2 separate regions of the Homo sapiens genome follow, and region 2 is linked to region 1. A link means that fine-mapping ties the variant in region 1 to the expression of a gene that starts in the linked region. Tissue or cell type: unexposed skin. Region 1 holds a variant in brackets; the other region holds the start of a gene. All regions are shown on one strand. Distances are from middle to middle.

What was found. PIP is the estimated chance that this variant, and not a neighbour inherited with it, causes the effect.
Region 2: it holds the start of TRIM66, and the variant in region 1 is fine-mapped to the expression of TRIM66 in unexposed skin (GTEx, PIP 0.91).

Annotation. Positions count from the first base shown.
Region 1 is chr11:8,646,281-8,654,477 of GRCh38, forward strand. It overlaps TRIM66 (tripartite motif containing 66), which reads right to left. Exons shown (of 25, transcript NM_001388022.1): 7 at 5,520-5,623; 8 at 3,460-3,607; 9 at 2,136-2,268; 10 at 1,690-1,806; 11 at 167-281. Among named protein-coding and RNA genes, the nearest start is that of TRIM66, 32 kb to the right of the region's middle. The variant C/T (reference allele first, on the strand shown) is at 3,542.
Region 2 is chr11:8,677,986-8,686,162 of GRCh38, forward strand. It overlaps TRIM66 (tripartite motif containing 66), which reads right to left and starts at 4,680. Exons shown (of 25, transcript NM_001388022.1): 1 at 4,616-4,680; 2 at 1,916-2,078; 3 at 1,635-1,829. It overlaps RPL27A (ribosomal protein L27a), which reads left to right and starts at 4,807. Exons shown (of 5, transcript NM_000990.5): 1 at 4,807-4,831; 2 at 5,217-5,280; 3 at 6,021-6,096; 4 at 6,733-6,907; 5 at 7,693-8,177. The coding sequence starts at 4,829. The coding sequence ends at 7,821. SNORA3A (small nucleolar RNA, H/ACA box 3A) reads left to right here and starts at 6,242; the gene lies at 6,242-6,371. SNORA3B (small nucleolar RNA, H/ACA box 3B) reads left to right here and starts at 7,454; the gene lies at 7,454-7,584. RefSeq lists enhancers at 4,237-5,436, 4,300-4,369, 4,570-4,759, 5,086-5,728 and a silencer at 4,880-5,079.

The sequences.
Region 1 (8,197 bases):
AGCCACCCTCCCAAAATTAGGCTGACATTTTAAAATACAGGGAGCAGCACAGAGCTATGGAAGCTGCATATCTGAATTACAGCCTAGGCTTCCCTAGGTCCTGGGACTAGCTTGATATATGGATGGTTTCTGAACCCAACCATCTGATCCATCTGTCTATACATACCTCTAATTCCTCTATTAGCCCATTGGCCTGTTTGTTCAGCTCATTCATCAGAACCATCTTGGCCATTTTGATCTGGTTTTCCACCTTCCTATGCTGATGCTTCACTTCAAAAATCCTGTAAACACAATGGGACAAACCATGGTAAGCTTTCCTCATGGACTATATGAAGACGAAGAGACAGCAAACATAAGAACCAACTTGGAGGCTGCCTACTGAGATCAGGGCCTAGCAGACACCAAATACAAAAAAAAGAGAGCCTTCCTCCACCATCCCACCTTTTGTACAAAGCCCCACTTGATCAAAGTTCAGCTTGGTTTTCTCTAGGTAAACCTCAAGTCTACACCAAGGTCAACCCAGTAGCCCACCAGTTGACACAGCACTAGAGGTAGGACCAAAAGAGAAAGTATGGGAATAATTTACTGTAATTTGTTGTGTTTAAAAGGAGGATGCTCCAATAAATGTCGCCATGAGGTAAAAAGAGGCAGAATGCATACTGCCTCAGTAGTTTCTGAGGGCCGGGGGGTGTTGGGGGAATGGAGAGTGACTAATAATGTTTATATTATTGGCATAATAACATATTATATAATAAACATATTATATAATAAACAATAATAAACATATAATTATATAATAAACAATAAACATATAATATAATGTTTATTATAAACATATAATAATGTTTATATTAATGTGGCTTCTTTTTGGGGGGATGAAAATGTTTTAAACGTAGACAGTAATTATGTACAGTTGCACAATTCTGTGAATATACTAAAGGCCACTGAATTATACATTTAAAAAGAATAATTTTATGATACGTAGATTATATCTCAGTAAAGCTATTTTTAAAAATTTAAAAAGCATGGGCATTGAAGTCACCACAGACCTACCATCTAAACCCAGCACAGTCACTGGCTAGTTGTGTGATCTCAGATGAGTTACCAAACCTCTATGAACCTCAGTCTCCTCATCAGTAAAATGGAGAAAATCGCTAACTGAAAGAATGGCAAGAACTGAACAAAATAATGCATATATGATACCCAACCCAGTGCCTGACACATGAGGTGCTCTCAGCACCTACCACTTCCTCTTCCTATGTAAAATACCAATGATTTCATGTGACTTGTAGATTTACAGAGAACACACAGGGAAAGGGGTGATAAAGCACAGATTGCCCCTGGTTTGTTCCACCCTCATAATAAGCAGCACTCTCTTCCCTAGTGTCTGCTTGGTACCCTTGTTCTCAAGCACCGACTTCTGGCTAGTTCATAAGGCATATTCTTTGACCCAGACTCACTCTGATCATCCTGACCTAGCTTGGTCTCAGCCACCAAGGGATGACTTAATGACCCCTCCCTGGCCCTGAGACCTCAAAGGCCAAGACATATGCCTTCTAGGACATATGCCCACATCTGCTTAACCACAGTTCCTCTTCACAGGCACTACATCTGACGGCCTGGTGTTGGAACCCTGGGTGTGCGGGAACAGAGCATTTCCAGCACTGGCAAGGCACTAGCCTGTGCTACCTGTCCTCAATTTGCTTTGCAGATGTCTGTAGACTGGATTTCTTATGTGCCACCTGTGTAGTCACACCTTCCAGAAGCATCCTCTGGTTTTGCAAAACTTCTTCAACATGTCTGCACCTAGGGGATGAGGCAGAGAAAAAGCTGAGAAGGGCTGAGTCCTACTTTGAGCATGCCAACCAAGCGGGAATCTCCACAGGGAACTGTCTCAGCCAGACCCATGGAAGCTGTGATGACTTCTAGGGAAAGTCTAAGGCACCACAGGCTCTTGGCCCATTAGGCCTTTTCCAGGGAAGTCCTACAACAGGAGCAGAGAAAAACTTCAGCCCAGGGGCTGCAGGTTGGCTTGGGCAGGGAGAAGATTCTGATGCACGGGGATTCCCAGAGCTCTCACAAGTAAGAAATCCAGAGCCCTCCCCAGCCCATTTCAGGCAGTCTGTCAGCCCCACCTGTGTTCTTTGTGTTCCACCACTAGGCAGCTATGGCAAGTGAGCATATCACATGTCTCACAGAATAGCTTGAGTACTTCCTGTGTGTGTAGAGGACAATACAAGGTGAAGTCTCCGGGACCACCATTCACTCCTGCCAGAGAAGACAGAGAAAGTGAGCTTCTCTTGCTCAGGTAGACAAACCTCTCAGTTAAGCTTTGCTGCACAGCTCTCAGCCTTCAGAGGACACTGCAGAAATACAGAGCTCGGGGGAAGTGTTATAAACAGGAGATGACTCTCCAGGGGCACAAGGAGGATTTTGGGCTGAGCTTGGCTGGATTTGCCCAGTTGTCCAGAAATAGCACACCATCAAGCCCAAGCATCCCACTACCTGCCAGAGGCTGAGGAAGGCGCTTGCTACTACTCCACATAGATCTCCTGCAAAATAATGAATCCTTCACAATTAACCTTAACCTGTTCATTAATCAGGATTCTGTTTTTAATGGAGCTGAAACCAGCTATCCAGCCTTGCCAGGCTCCAGGCTAGATCACGTGGATCATGAACTCTGGTTCCTGTGGATTTGACAGTTGTAGAACCCCTCCCACAATTCAAGGGCCTTGAGAAAAGACTTTCAAGAAGATTGTCATTTAAAACAGATGGTGGCTGGGCGCAGTGGCTCACGCCTGTAATCGCAGCACTTTGGGAGGCCAAGGTGGGCGGATCACCTGAGGTCAGGGGTTCAAGACCAGCCTGGCCAACATGGCGAAACCCCATCTCTACTAAAACTACAAACATTAGCTGGGCGCGGTGGCGCATGCCTGTAATCCCAGCTACTTGGGAGGCTGAAGCAGGAGAATCGCTTGAACCCAGGAGGTGGAGGTTGTAGTGAGCCGAGATCATGCCACCGCACCCCAGCCTGGGTGACAGAGTGAGACTCCATCTCAAAAAAAAATAAAAATAAAAATAAAAATAAAACAGATGGTGCTGGGTAGACAAACAAACAAGCCCTAATCCAGACTAAGTTAATCAAGTAAATAAATTAGAAGGGTAACATGATTACTCTAGAGGGGAAAGGCAGGGAGCTCAGCCAGCTTCCACAATAATTCAACACTTTCCTCTCTATACCATTTCATCCACACTCATCCACCCCCACCATCAACAGGGAGGGACGAGAGTGAGTCACCCCTTTGACTCTGAAGGAGACTTCCTTTGGGAAAGGCTCTGAGACTGTCCCTACCTTCTCCCCCAGCAAGAAAACAAGATCGGAGAGCTATTCTCCAGGGATCTTAGGGTTCAGCCCTGCTTTAGGGCATGGGAGTGGGCAGGGAGAGGTGGGATTGGTACCTGGAGATCCCTTCTGGGCCCGAGGAAAGAATGGGCCCCCGGGGACAGGGCTGTGTCGGTGTTCCTCTGTGCAAGAGCTGCA[C/T]AGCCAGCGATTGCAGTAGGTGCAGAGGATATGTGCTGCCCTCTTCTCCTTGCACTCAGAGCAGTTCTGGAAGCAGAGAGTTCTGGAGTTACTGATGTTATCCTCATTTGTGTCTGCCTCCACAAGTGGTAAATGCTCTAAAGACAGGGGTCCTGCAGGCCTATTCCTCCACCAGTTTGGAGTGTAACCTATTCTGCAGAGCTGTCTGGGAGTAACATGCCGGGGCTTGTGGAAGGAAGCATCCTTTGTAACCAAAAGAACAGTGGCTACTTCAGGTATGGTGGCTCACACCTGTAACCCCAGTACTTTGGGAGGCCAAGGCAGGAGGAGTGCTTGAGCCCAGGAGTTTCAGACTAGCCTGGGCAACATAGTGAGACCCCATCTCTACAAAAAATACAAAAATTAGCCGGGAGTGGTGGCACATGCCTGTAGTCCCAGCTACTAGGGAGACTGAGGTGGGAAGATCGCTTGAGCTCAGGAGGTCAAGGCTGCAGTGAGCCAAGATCGTACCACTACACTCCAGCCTGGGCAACAGAGGAAGACCCTGTCTCAAAAAAGGATGAGGAAGAAGGCAAAGGAGAAGGAAGAAGAAGGAGGAGGAGGAAGAGGAGGAGAGGAGGAGGGGAAGGAGCAGAAGGAAAAGGAGGAAGGGAAGGAGGAAGGGAAGGAGGGAGGGAGGGAGGGAGGAGGAGGAGGAGCAGCAGCAGCAGCTGTCTCAGGGGCTGTTCACACAAGTCCTGTGCTGAAGCTAAGGACACCCAGATGCGTAAGCCAAGGATCTGATCTCATGCTATCCACAGCACACAGGATGGTACACATTAACTGAGTAATGCTGTAATTAAAAGGATGCAACACATGCTAAGGAAGCAAAGGAAGCCTTCCTGGAACTCAGTCTAGGAGTGGCTAGGAAAGGTTTTACAAAAAGGAAACACTTGAGCTGGATACTGAATGACAAGTAGGTTCACCAGGCAGATAAGGGAGGAAAATGTTGTAACAGAGGGAAAGCACTGGCAAAAGCAGGAAATTCAATGTGCTTCAGAGAGGAGAAAGCCCACATATGGGAGTACACAGCAAGATGGTCAAATGCAACCAAGGAAGGGCAAGTATAGACCAGCGTTCAGAGTTGTGCTCCCACACCTGGGCTCTGCCTGATCTGAGGGTACCTAGGCCTCTCCTAGTCCAAATGTTCATTCATTTCGTAAGCAAATATCTTGCCCGGGCTATTATAAAACATCAAGAGAAGGGGAGATTTGGAAAAGTTGGCCTATCTGTGTCTGAATCACAGAGGCCACCAAACTGATGTGAATTCTGAAAGTTCTACTAATTAAACTATGAATTCCTTGAATGTAGAGTATATGGGTCGATCTCCCTAATATCCAGCACAGGGTCTGGCACATGTGAGACATTCAACACAAATCAGATACAGGAACAAGTAAGTAAATTAGTAAATTACTAATTTACTAATTTACCCTAGTGGAAAGAGGAACAGAAGGGCTGCCGGCCAATAAGTGATAAAAATTTCCTTAAGAAACTCAGGAAAAAGGTGATAGTTGTTAAATACAGGCAAGGTTAATAAACCCATTTAATCCAGGCTGGTACATGAATTTCAACTCAGGATGATTAAAAAAATAAAACAAAAGCCCAGTACTGGTATTTTTCAGCAAGAGCTGTAAGAGAGAGAAAAATAATTATATAGACAGTAAGCAACTCTTAATATATCTTAACTTACATTCACCTTCTGCTAAAGGGATTGACACAAAAAAAAGTCAATAATTTTCACTTAATAGAAAACCCCCTCATTGTTTCCCCCAACTCATGCATTTTTATTTTCTTCTAGATGGATGGATGGATGATTAGGAAAACTGATGGAGAAGTAACAAATCAGATGATAGAGTGATGGATGGATAGAAGACTTATGGACAGGGGCCTCACAGATTTCTGAAAAAGATCAGCTGCTTCTTTCCTTGTCCTGACTTACCCTGGCCATCTTGGGTTGCTCAGTAGGAACACAATGCAGAAAAAAATGTTCAGTTACATCCCTGGTAAGATATACTCGTTCACACCCAGGACAGGAGATGAGCTCTGTGCAAGAAAGAAAGATAGCAGAGTCAGGGCAACATGGCTGATTATAACTAAGGCCTGGACATAAGGCTTTCTAATACACAACACCAAGATACATGGCAATACCCATGTGTGCCAAAATGAACTACACTTGATGCCATAGCCTGCATTTAGTATGTGGGTACCCTGAACATGACCATCCCATTGGGGCCTTCCCTACAGACCATCTGGTCTCCTCACATTCTTGTCTTTACCTGGTCCTACCTTCCTCCCTGCCCCATAAACCATGCTACTACAGGCCCAACGCTGCTTTGGTTCTGACAATCAGGTGCCTTCTTGCTGCTCCCATTCCTCATTCCACATCCCTGAGAGCACAGCTCCCATCACTAGCCAAGATCCAGAGTCAGTTTAGTCTGGGCACAGTTCCAGGTCATTAAGGTTACCACATAGCAGGATGACTTGGAAGATCTCGAAGCTAAAGCCTCCAGAAGGCTTTAGTCAGAGAAAGGCAAGGCCTCCCTGCCCGCTCATCTAGGAGGTATTTTTCTCTTAGTACAGCATATACCAGTCAGTCTGCCTCTGAGGCTCAGAGGTCTTTTGGAGGGCTCTCTCCCCATAGACCAAGTTAGATGCATCATATATATGTATATTTTACCTATGAACAGCTTGACCTACAATCTCTCCCCAGAGAAATACATCAGTCTCTAACATATTCTTCAGCATAGTGGGCTTCTGGACTATAAAAGCAGCAGAAGACTCCCACCCTGGAGACCACAGTGATTCTGCCGGCCCACCGCAAGGGCAGTCAACCTACTAGGAACAAGAAAATGAGCCTCTGGAGTAGGGCAAGGTACCTGTGTCCAGGGATGAGGGTGATCTGGAAAGGGGTTGGCTATGGCAGTGAATGCAGCAGTACCGCTACAATCTCCTCTGTCTCATCTCTTCAAAATACGAAAGAATGATATGATGGCAGTTGCTCCAGACTTATAGTCAGACAAATGTAAGTCCAAAATACCAGGCCTACCAGCCAATGACCTTGGGCAAAACACTTAATCTCACTTAATTGCCCTGTACCCCAGTTTCTTCATATGTAAAATAGGGAAAATAAGAGTTGCTGTGCACATTAAATTAGATAAGACTTCAGAAATCACATGGTCCTCCATGAATGTCAACTTTGGAGTTCAAAAGATTCCTCATATCCTATTCACAGTAATGCAATAAACTCAATTACCAACTCTCTGGTGACGAAAGTTAGTTTGAGTGGTAGATTCAAAAAATGGCCACAAATTCTTCCCCTCCCTGCATCCATACCCTTGCAATCCTACCATCAAAAGGTAAGACTCTCCACGAGCTTCAGGTCAGTGATGAGTTTTTAATTTTTAAAAGAGGTAGGACCCTTTGCCCTTTGAATCTAAGCTCACCTTGTGACTTTCTTTGGCCAACAGAATGCAGCAAAAGTGACAAGTTTTCCAAGCCTAGACCTCAGTGGCCTTATATAATTCTGCTCTTGTTCTTAGAACTTTAAGAGTGCCATGTGAAAAATCTAACCTGGCATTGAGACTGCTGGAAGATGAGAGATCATGCAGAGAAAGTTCTCAGTTGTCTCAGGCATCCCACCTGAGGCCATCATAGACCAGCCAGCCCCAACTAACCCACTAGCTGAATACAGTGCAAGAGTGAACACAGTTATAATTAGCTAAGCCCAGGCCAAACCAGAAGAATTACCCAGAGAATCCCAGCCCAAACAGCCAAACTGTAGAATCATAAAATAAATAAAGTTTAGTTGTTTTAAGCACAAAGTTTAGAGGTGGCTTGTTATGCAGTAAAAGCTAACTGATACATCCCAGGAAAATAGAAATCCACAAAATCATGAAAAATAATAGTTTAATACTCCCTCACCCCACCAAAAAAAAAAAGAAAAGAAAAGAAAAGAAAAACTTTCTGAGTTTTTGCAGAGCCATGGGTGTTAATGACAGGACTGTATCTGGAATGTCCTGCATATTCTCCTGCCTGTCAAGAACAATGGCCAGAGGTGGAGAAGGATGCTCTCCACAGGTGACATCATCCAGGGGAATAAGGCTACTGTCCCTCTCTTCCACTTGGCTCACCCTGAGGTGACCTCCTCATCTACAGCAGGACAGAAATGCTGCTCTAATTGTTGAAAACGACTTCCACAAGACATCCCGGGTACCAGATGCCCAAACATCAGTCATTGTAACATGGCCTCACGAGCAGAATGAAAAAAGAGAAAGAACTGAATAGGTCAAACAAGGCCTCATCACACATCCTCTGCTCCCTTGGCCTTAAAGCCAAAGTCCTCAGCTTGGCATTCAATGCCCCTTGTAAATTGACCTTATCTCTCTCTAATCTCATCTTTAGCTTTGCCTAACATACAACCTGTGTTTTTGCCATGCCCAACATCTCTGCTATCTCTTGAATACACCAGACTTTTGCATGACTCTGTGTCTGTGAAAAATGCTGTTTCCTCTTCCTGAAATACTCTTTCTTGCCCCTCTCCTTTTCAGATAAACTCCTATTCATCCTTTCATACCTGTTCAAATGTTCCACCTTTGAGCAGCAAGATCAATTTCCCCC
Region 2 (8,177 bases), 32 kb after region 1:
AACTACCGATAAAGGCAAACAAAAACCCCCAAGGCTAGGGAGGTTAAAATGAAACTGGAAACTGTACATATTGCTGGTGAATAAATTGGTACGATCCTTTTGGAAAAAATACATAGTAACATAAAATGAATCACAAAAATGTTCATACCATATAATCCAGCAGTCTCACTTCTGGGAATTTATCCTAGACAAGTTATTCAACAGGAGAAGAAAAAATTATATACAAATGCTCATTCCATCATTGTCTCTAACAGCAAAGAATACAATAAGAATTTTTTAAAAAAACAAAATACACAAGAAAGTGGCTTAATAAAAGATAGCACATGCTGAAAATAAATTATTCTTCAGCTGTTAAAAATAATCATGAAGACTGGGTAGTGATACGAAAAACTGCCATGGTATTAAATAAAAAGAATACAAAAGGATTTGTATACTATGATCACTAACTTTGCAGACAGCTATGTCTCCATGTATACAAGGGTTGAAAGGTAATACTCAGAAAAGAAAATGGCATCACAGGGTGGAATGATTTGAGTTGCTTATACTTATATTTTTTTCAGAATTTTCTTTACTGTTGTACTGTCTATTACGTATAATTTTTCAAGTCTTTCTGAAGTAAATTGGGATTTCTGAGCTTTTCTCTAATTCTCACTTGGAAAAAAAGCAGAAACACTGCTTCTTCCCATCTTGATTAACAGTGCTCTACTTAAAAAAGAAAACGAACATATTTCCAAATGTCCACATCTAAAGATGGAGAGCAAGAAAACAGAGCTGGATTCATTCAGGATGTTGCTGCTATCTGAAGGACTGATGTCGAATTCAGGAACCCAGTGAGGAGAGAAAGGAAGAGGGATCACCAGGGCCTTCTTCAGGGTGATGATGTGTTCCCAAGGCCACCTGGAGAGAGGCCTGGGGCAGCAAAAAATCAGCACACTTGCCTGCCTCACCAGGCTGCTGTCTGGTATCATCTCTTCCGTTCATTTCTGAGGTATTTTCTGAGGCCCTCACACTCTGAGGAAGCCCAGATGCCTGAGATGTCACAAAGCCATGCTGTACTTCAGAAGAGATGTCACAGAGAAGGACACCCCTCAGGAGTCATGGCCAAAGGTCATGTCCCATGTGCCTAGCTGGGAGGGACAGGTCCCCTAATGCCAAATATCTGGCTGCTACTCCACTTTGCAGACAGAAAACTCAGCTTTGTCTGCTCTCTCAGACCTCTGTCAACCTAGGAAAAGTGACACACACTGAACAAACACCACATGAGCTGTGTGTTTAAGTCATGTGGTTGCCTTTTGAAGGAGAGGGAGCTGGATAGAAAACTGGATTGAGCCAGACAACTACCCAGGGTACTCCCTCTACAACCAGATCAAGCCATTGATGAGAAGAATGTTAGGTGAACACAGAACCCAACGGGTAGTGCTGGGTCCACTCTGGGAGGCCTTCTGTTCAGCCGCGTGACCTGAGGGACAGAACGTAGCTCCTCTATAACCAAGGAACCTGGCAAACTATCCAAGAGGAGTGTCTTAGCACCCAGAACCCTACCTCAACCCCTTGCAGTGGTGGTCCTTATTGTAGGCCCCAGCTCTAATACCACTGATGGTTCCCTTTCATTCCCAAGGCCCTGCCCAGCTTACCTCCATTGACAGATCATCTTCCCAAGGTTAGGTTCCAGGTAACCCAGCTCATTTCTTGTGCACTTACTGGCCAGTTTTGATGTCAAATAGACGACGATGTCTTCTTTGATCTCCCCTCCTATTCTCAAGACCCCTCTTCCTGCTGGTCACATGCAGTATGTGATTAAGGTTGATGGAGGGATGAAGACCATAATGCTGTAAGGTCAGAGAGGGACTGGTCACTGAGGTAAAAGCAGGGGATCTGGAGAGAGAAGACTAAAGGCTAGGCCCAGGCTCTGTACCTGACCACCTATGCAGCGTCTGACAAGTCACCCAATTCTTCTGTGCTTCAGTTTTCACACACGTAAAATGAGGCTGGTAGTGCTGTACCTTCAGGCAGATGTATTTTGTAAATTGCCAAGTGCTCTGAAAATGTTGGTTGTTATCCTTGTGGACTGAAGTGTTCTGGGAAGAAGCAGAATATAAAGTTGGCCTTAAAGGTTGAGGAAGATTCAGGACATGTGGTCAGGAAGAGGATGGGCACTCCGGGATGGGAAACAGCATGAGCAAAGGCAAAAATGCAAATGGGATATACCAGGCACGGCTGCAGTAGAAAGCTTGTGTAAGGGAGAGGCTGGGGTAAGGCTGGAAAGGCAAGTGGGCTATATTCTGTTGGTCATAAGGAGCTACCGAACTTTTTGATCAAGTAAAAGAATGAAAGTCATGTTTTCGGAATACTAACGTGGTGGAGGTGTGAAGGATACAGAAATTGGAGGAGGGTTAGAATGCAGGCAGAGTGAACAAAGGAAGGTGTTGTAAACTCCAGTTAAGAGATATGATGGGGGCCTGAATGAAGGCAGGGCACTAAGGCTTAAACAGAGGAAGCACATTGGGGAGATACAGAAACAAAAGGATAGGGTGACAGTGTAGTAGAAGAAGAGAAGGCTTGGGGACAATTTTCATTATCTAGGTGGACAATGGTGCCACTCACCAAGACAGAGAATAAAGGAGAAGGCACCAGTGAGCAGTGCAGATTGAGTTCTTTGGATATGTTTACTTTGTCTGTAGAATGTCCAAGGAATACTAACCAGTAATTAAGTGACCATATGGGTGTGGAGCTCAGCAATAAGGATGTGAATTGAAGCCACCCAAGAAGACCATGTACTGTGAAAAGATAAGGACAAGGACAGAAGGCTGAGGAACATCAACATTCAAATGGTGGACAACGCTGGATGGAAGAACCTGAAAAGAAGACTGAAAAGTGACCAAAGAGTAGGAGGAAGGCAAGACTTTTTCTAGAAAAAGACGCCAACAGATTAAAGTACAACAGAAAGAACAAGTGATATGAAGAATAGGAAGAGTCCAATTTGGCAATTCGTTCATTAATGACATTAGTAAGAGCAATTTCACTGAAGTCACAGGCTGTGAGCTAGACCGCAGTGAACAATGGATGGGAAGGTGCAAATGGGCAGGATTTGTAGACTACTCTTTTGGGGAGCTTGGCTGTAAGGGCAAGGACATGGGAGAATTTTGGAATTTTTTTTTTTTTTTTTGAGACGGAGTCTCGTTCTGTCGCCCAGGCTGCAGTGCAGTGGCGCGATCTCGGTTCACTACAAGCTCCGCCTCCCGGGTTCACGCCATTCTCCTGCCTCAGCCTCCCGAGTAGCTGGGACTACAGGCGCCCACCACCACGCCCATCTAATTTTTTGTATTTTTAGTAGAGACGGGGTTTCACCGTGTTAGCCAGGATGGTCTCGATCTCCTGACCTCGTGATCCGCCCGCCTCGGCCTTCCAAAGTGCTGGGATTACAGAAGTAAGCCACCACGCCCGGCCAGAATTTTGGATATTTTAGCTAAAATATATTTTAGCTGAAGGGGGCAAGACAAAGAAAAATAAATAAATACACGCTCACACATACACACAGAGAATAACTGAGGGGATGGGATTTTAAAAATTTATTTCATTTTTCCCATGGGATCTATTAATAGACTAGCGAGGGGATGGGATCTTGAACACTGGTTGAAGGAACCGACTTAAGAGCGAAGACATGCTGCTATTAGCGAAGACAGGGAGGTGAGGGTAAGTTCATTTATTCACTCAACAATCACTAGTTGAGTGTGGATTAAAAAAAACAGTCCTTGACCACATAAGGAATTAGGTCTAGTAGGGAAGACAAACGTAGGTCAATAAATTACATAAGGGTTATACTAGATTGTGTGGTGGTACAGGTGGGGAAGCGAGCAACTGTCTGCATTGTGTCCAGGAAAGGGTCACAGGCGTGTTATGTAGATTCTGGAGAAAATTCAAAAATAGCATTTATTTTTACTTATTTACTTTTGTATGTGGAGACGAGGGTCTCACTATGTTGCCCAGGCTGGTGTTGAACTACTCGCCTCAAGAAATCCTCCCGCCTCGACCTCCCAAAGTGTTGGGACTACAGGTGTGAGCCACCGCGCCTGGCCTAAATGTGGCATTTAGAAAAAGTATTTACAACATCTGCATTAAAAGGACCATAAAGCAACCAGGCATCTAAGTCCCTGAAGCAATTTAAGTTGCTCAAACTTGAGAGGACAACCAAATGATAGCAAAAGGGCAAAAGAGAAAGGAAGCTGCAGTGCCCACTCAGAAGTGTGAGAGCGGGAGAAGGCATTTCGGGAGCCGCCCGAGCTTCAGGAAACCGAGCGAGACACCAGGTGGGCACACTGAGGATTAAAGAGGGCCTCGCGGTTCCGCACTGCGGCCGGGAGACAAACCAGTAGCCACTATCACCAGCCCCGGGCAGACCACTAAGAACTGTGGAGGTGCGCGGGGCGGCTCAGGGCTGGCGCATTTGGTGAGGAGCTCAGACAACGAGGCCCTTAGGGTCGGCTTAGGCGGTTCCCTGACCAAGGCGCCAGAAAAGGGCCTGGCTCAAGCAAGCACGGGCGGCGTGCAGTACAGCACACCTAGCCCCGATTCTTCAACAGTTCTCGCCCTCCGAGCCTAGCACAACGAGCCTCACCGAAACCGTACACCGCCACCAGGACACTCCGTGATGGGGGATCACCACCCTCAGAAAGAGGAAGCGACTAGCAGGCGCGCAATCCCGCGAGACCAGGAGGCCCCGCCCGAAGCCCGGCCTCTGTGACCGGAAGTGAGGCGTTTTGCCCCGCCCCCGTGGCCGATACCTCGCGAGACTTGGCGAAGGCCTTCCTTTTTCGTCTGGGCTGCCAACATGGTAGGTGTTTCGTTTCTTGCCTCCTCTTCCTTGCCGGCGGAGACCCCTAAGCTGTATTCCCATTGCCCCTAGTCATCCACTCCCTACCATGGTCGGGGCTTCCAGGCTGCGCATGGCCGCCTGCGGGGCAGGGTGGCCGGCGCGGGCCCGGGGCGGGGCTCCCGGAGCCGTGTGTTAGGCCCGCGGTTCGGATCTCTAGGACACGCGGGCCCCTGCGCTACCGTGGTGAGACCTCACGGCCCTGAGCGGATCGGTACCCTCAGCTTTCCCAAACGCTCCAGAAGTTAGGTCTTTGACCCACAGGCTTACAGGACCATCTCGGCTGGCGGGCATCGCCCCCTGCCCCTAATTCCTTAGGCCTTACCACCAAGCTTTTTCCACACAGCCATCCAGACTGAGGAAGACCCGGAAACTTAGGGGCCACGTGAGCCACGGCCACGGCCGCATAGGTAAGTGCCGGCTTCCCCTCGGGGTGGGCCTTGGGCTCTCTTCGGGTGCTTAGCTAGTCTGGAGATCGGTAGCCTATAAGTGGGTTAGAATAAGACCTTTTTGTGGTCAAGTTGCACAGCTGTTGATTTTTTTCTGACGATCCTCTAGTATTCCAGTTCTAAGGAATTTCACATCAGTGGGGTAATAGGAATTGAGCAGGCACGGTATTGGGTTAGTTGAAGACATGGAGTACTGTGGGAATGCTGTGATGTGGAACCTGAAAAGATGTTTCACCCGGAATCCTAAAGTAATCGCATTGCTGAAAACCGGCATCGGTAGGGTGGGAACAGCGTAAGCGGGACACAGAAGTCTGGGAAACACTCTGCTTTTGTGCGAGGAAGTATTGAGATGCATGAGAAGGCTGTGTGGTGCATGTAGCTTTTTTGTGTGTGTGTGAGACTGATCACTGTCGCCCAGGCTGGAGTGCAGTGGCGAAATCTCGGCTCACTGCAACCCCTGCCTGCCGGGCTCAAGCGATTCTCCTGCCTCAGCCTCCCGAGTAGCTGATATTACAGGTGTGCGCCACGACGCCCGGCTAATTCTTTTTCTATTTTTAGTAGAGTCGGGGGTTTCTCCGTGTTGGCCAGGCTGGTCTCGAACTCCTGACCTCAGGTGATCTACCCCCCCTCGTCCTCCTAAAATGCTGGGATTACAGGCATGAGCCATCACACCGGCCCCACGTAGCTTTGTATTCCTGCAGGCAAGCACCGGAAGCACCCCGGCGGCCGCGGTAATGCTGGTGGTCTGCATCACCACCGGATCAACTTCGACAAATAGTAAGTGTCCTTGGACTGCTTTTATTGACACAGCTTGGGAGGTAGGGGCAGAGAGAGGGCTGGCTTAAACAAAAAGTTTAGAAGCAAGCCTTGCCTATTGCTGTTTTTTACCAAGTTAACACTTGGTGTGAACTGAGAACCTGTCATCGAGGCTAGAGTCACGCTTGGGTATCGGCTATTGCCTGAGTGTGCTAGAGTCCTCGAAGAGTAACTGCTGACCTTATTCACTGGCTGTGGGCCTTATGGCACAGTCAGTCACCAGGTTAGAGACATGCTTCACATTCACCTACCCACAAACTAGTGGATGATAAATTTTGGCTATTCAGAAGACGTTTATTATAGGAGTATGTAGATTTTCCATAGAGTGCTGTTATGTGACTTGAATTTTAGTCTCGGCCCTGCCTCTGACATTGTCGGTGGTTTATCCTGGTTCCAGGAAATAAGACTAGCCTTTTCCTCATGATAGTCTTTGGTGGTTTTTAAAACAGTTGTTTAAGTCAACAGATGTATCATATGCCTGACACTGCTCTACACCAGTGAATAATTTACACTCTAATAGGGGGTGGTAACTATAAAGATGATAAACATAGCATCTTAATTGGAGTGTGTATGAAGGTGGTTGTTACCTCTTCCTAGCCACCCAGGCTACTTTGGGAAAGTTGGTATGAAGCATTACCACTTAAAGAGGAACCAGAGCTTCTGCCCAACTGTCAACCTTGACAAATTGTGGACTTTGGTCAGTGAACAGACACGGGTGAATGCTGCTAAAAACAAGACTGGGGCTGCTCCCATCATTGATGTGGTGCGATCGGTAAGTTAATTGGATGTTTTTCTGTACTTCCATACCTTCCCTTACAAAACTCTGGCTTAATCTAATCCACTTATATAATCTGTACTTCCCAGTTACCTACCAGACATTGATATTCTTCCTGTGGTAGAATTATCATAGGTAGTTCCCTATCCGTAGCAGTGCCTACTGTCACTGCCCAGGTTGTATCAGGTTTGCATTTCGTGCTTGAACTATAGCTGGTTTTCACTGAGCACAGCTCTTGGCCCTTCATGTTCTCCAGATAATAGAATCCTAATATGTTCCATTGATACTCAGTGCCATGCATTATCTGAAGAGATTTTCCCCCAAAACAGATGTATTATGTCTGTCCTTGCGGGGGTTCTGGTCCCTGTGTCAGTCTTAACTCTCATGAATATAGAGGTAGTGTTAAGAGGCCAGAACCCTAGGGACGCTTTAAATTCACTTCCCAGCCTATTTAATGTCCATTGAGTAGTTCTGGTGGTCAGGAAGGTGGTTGTCTTCTTTTGCTTAGCAGGGGGTATTTGAGCAGGAGGAGGCTTATGCTTTGCCGAGACTAGAGTCACATCCTGACACAACTCTTGTCCTGGTGTGCTAGAGTACTCGAAGAGAATCTACTGGTCTTGATTCACTGGTGGGGGCAGTCGGTGCCCCCGTTAGTGCCCAGATCAGAAACATACATACCCTGCCTAGGGATTTAGAAAGTGGGTTGGCAGTCTTTCCTCACGCCCATCACGCAGTTGGTACCTACTACAGTGTATTGTAAACTTTTTTCTCTGTTCTTCTAGGGCTACTACAAAGTTCTGGGAAAGGGAAAGCTCCCAAAGCAGCCTGTCATCGTGAAGGCCAAATTCTTCAGCAGAAGAGCTGAGGAGAAGATTAAGAGTGTTGGGGGGGCCTGTGTCCTGGTGGCTTGAAGCCACATGGAGGGAGTTTCATTAAATGCTAACTACTTTTTCCTTGTGGTGTGAGTGTAGGTTCTTCAGTGGCACCTCTACATCCTGTGTGCATTGGGAGCCCAGGTTCTAGTACTTAGGGTATGAAGACATGGGGTCCTCTCCTGACTTCCCTCAAATATATGGTAAACGTAAGACCAACACAGACGTTGGCCAGTTAAACATTTCTGTTTATAAAGTCAGAATAATACCTGTTGATCACTGAAAGGCCTGCATGTATTGTACTCTGAATTTTACAGTGAATGAGAGAATGTACCCTAATTGTTCAACAGGGCTCAAAAGGAAAGATTCCATTTTGATGGGTCACATTCTAAAGA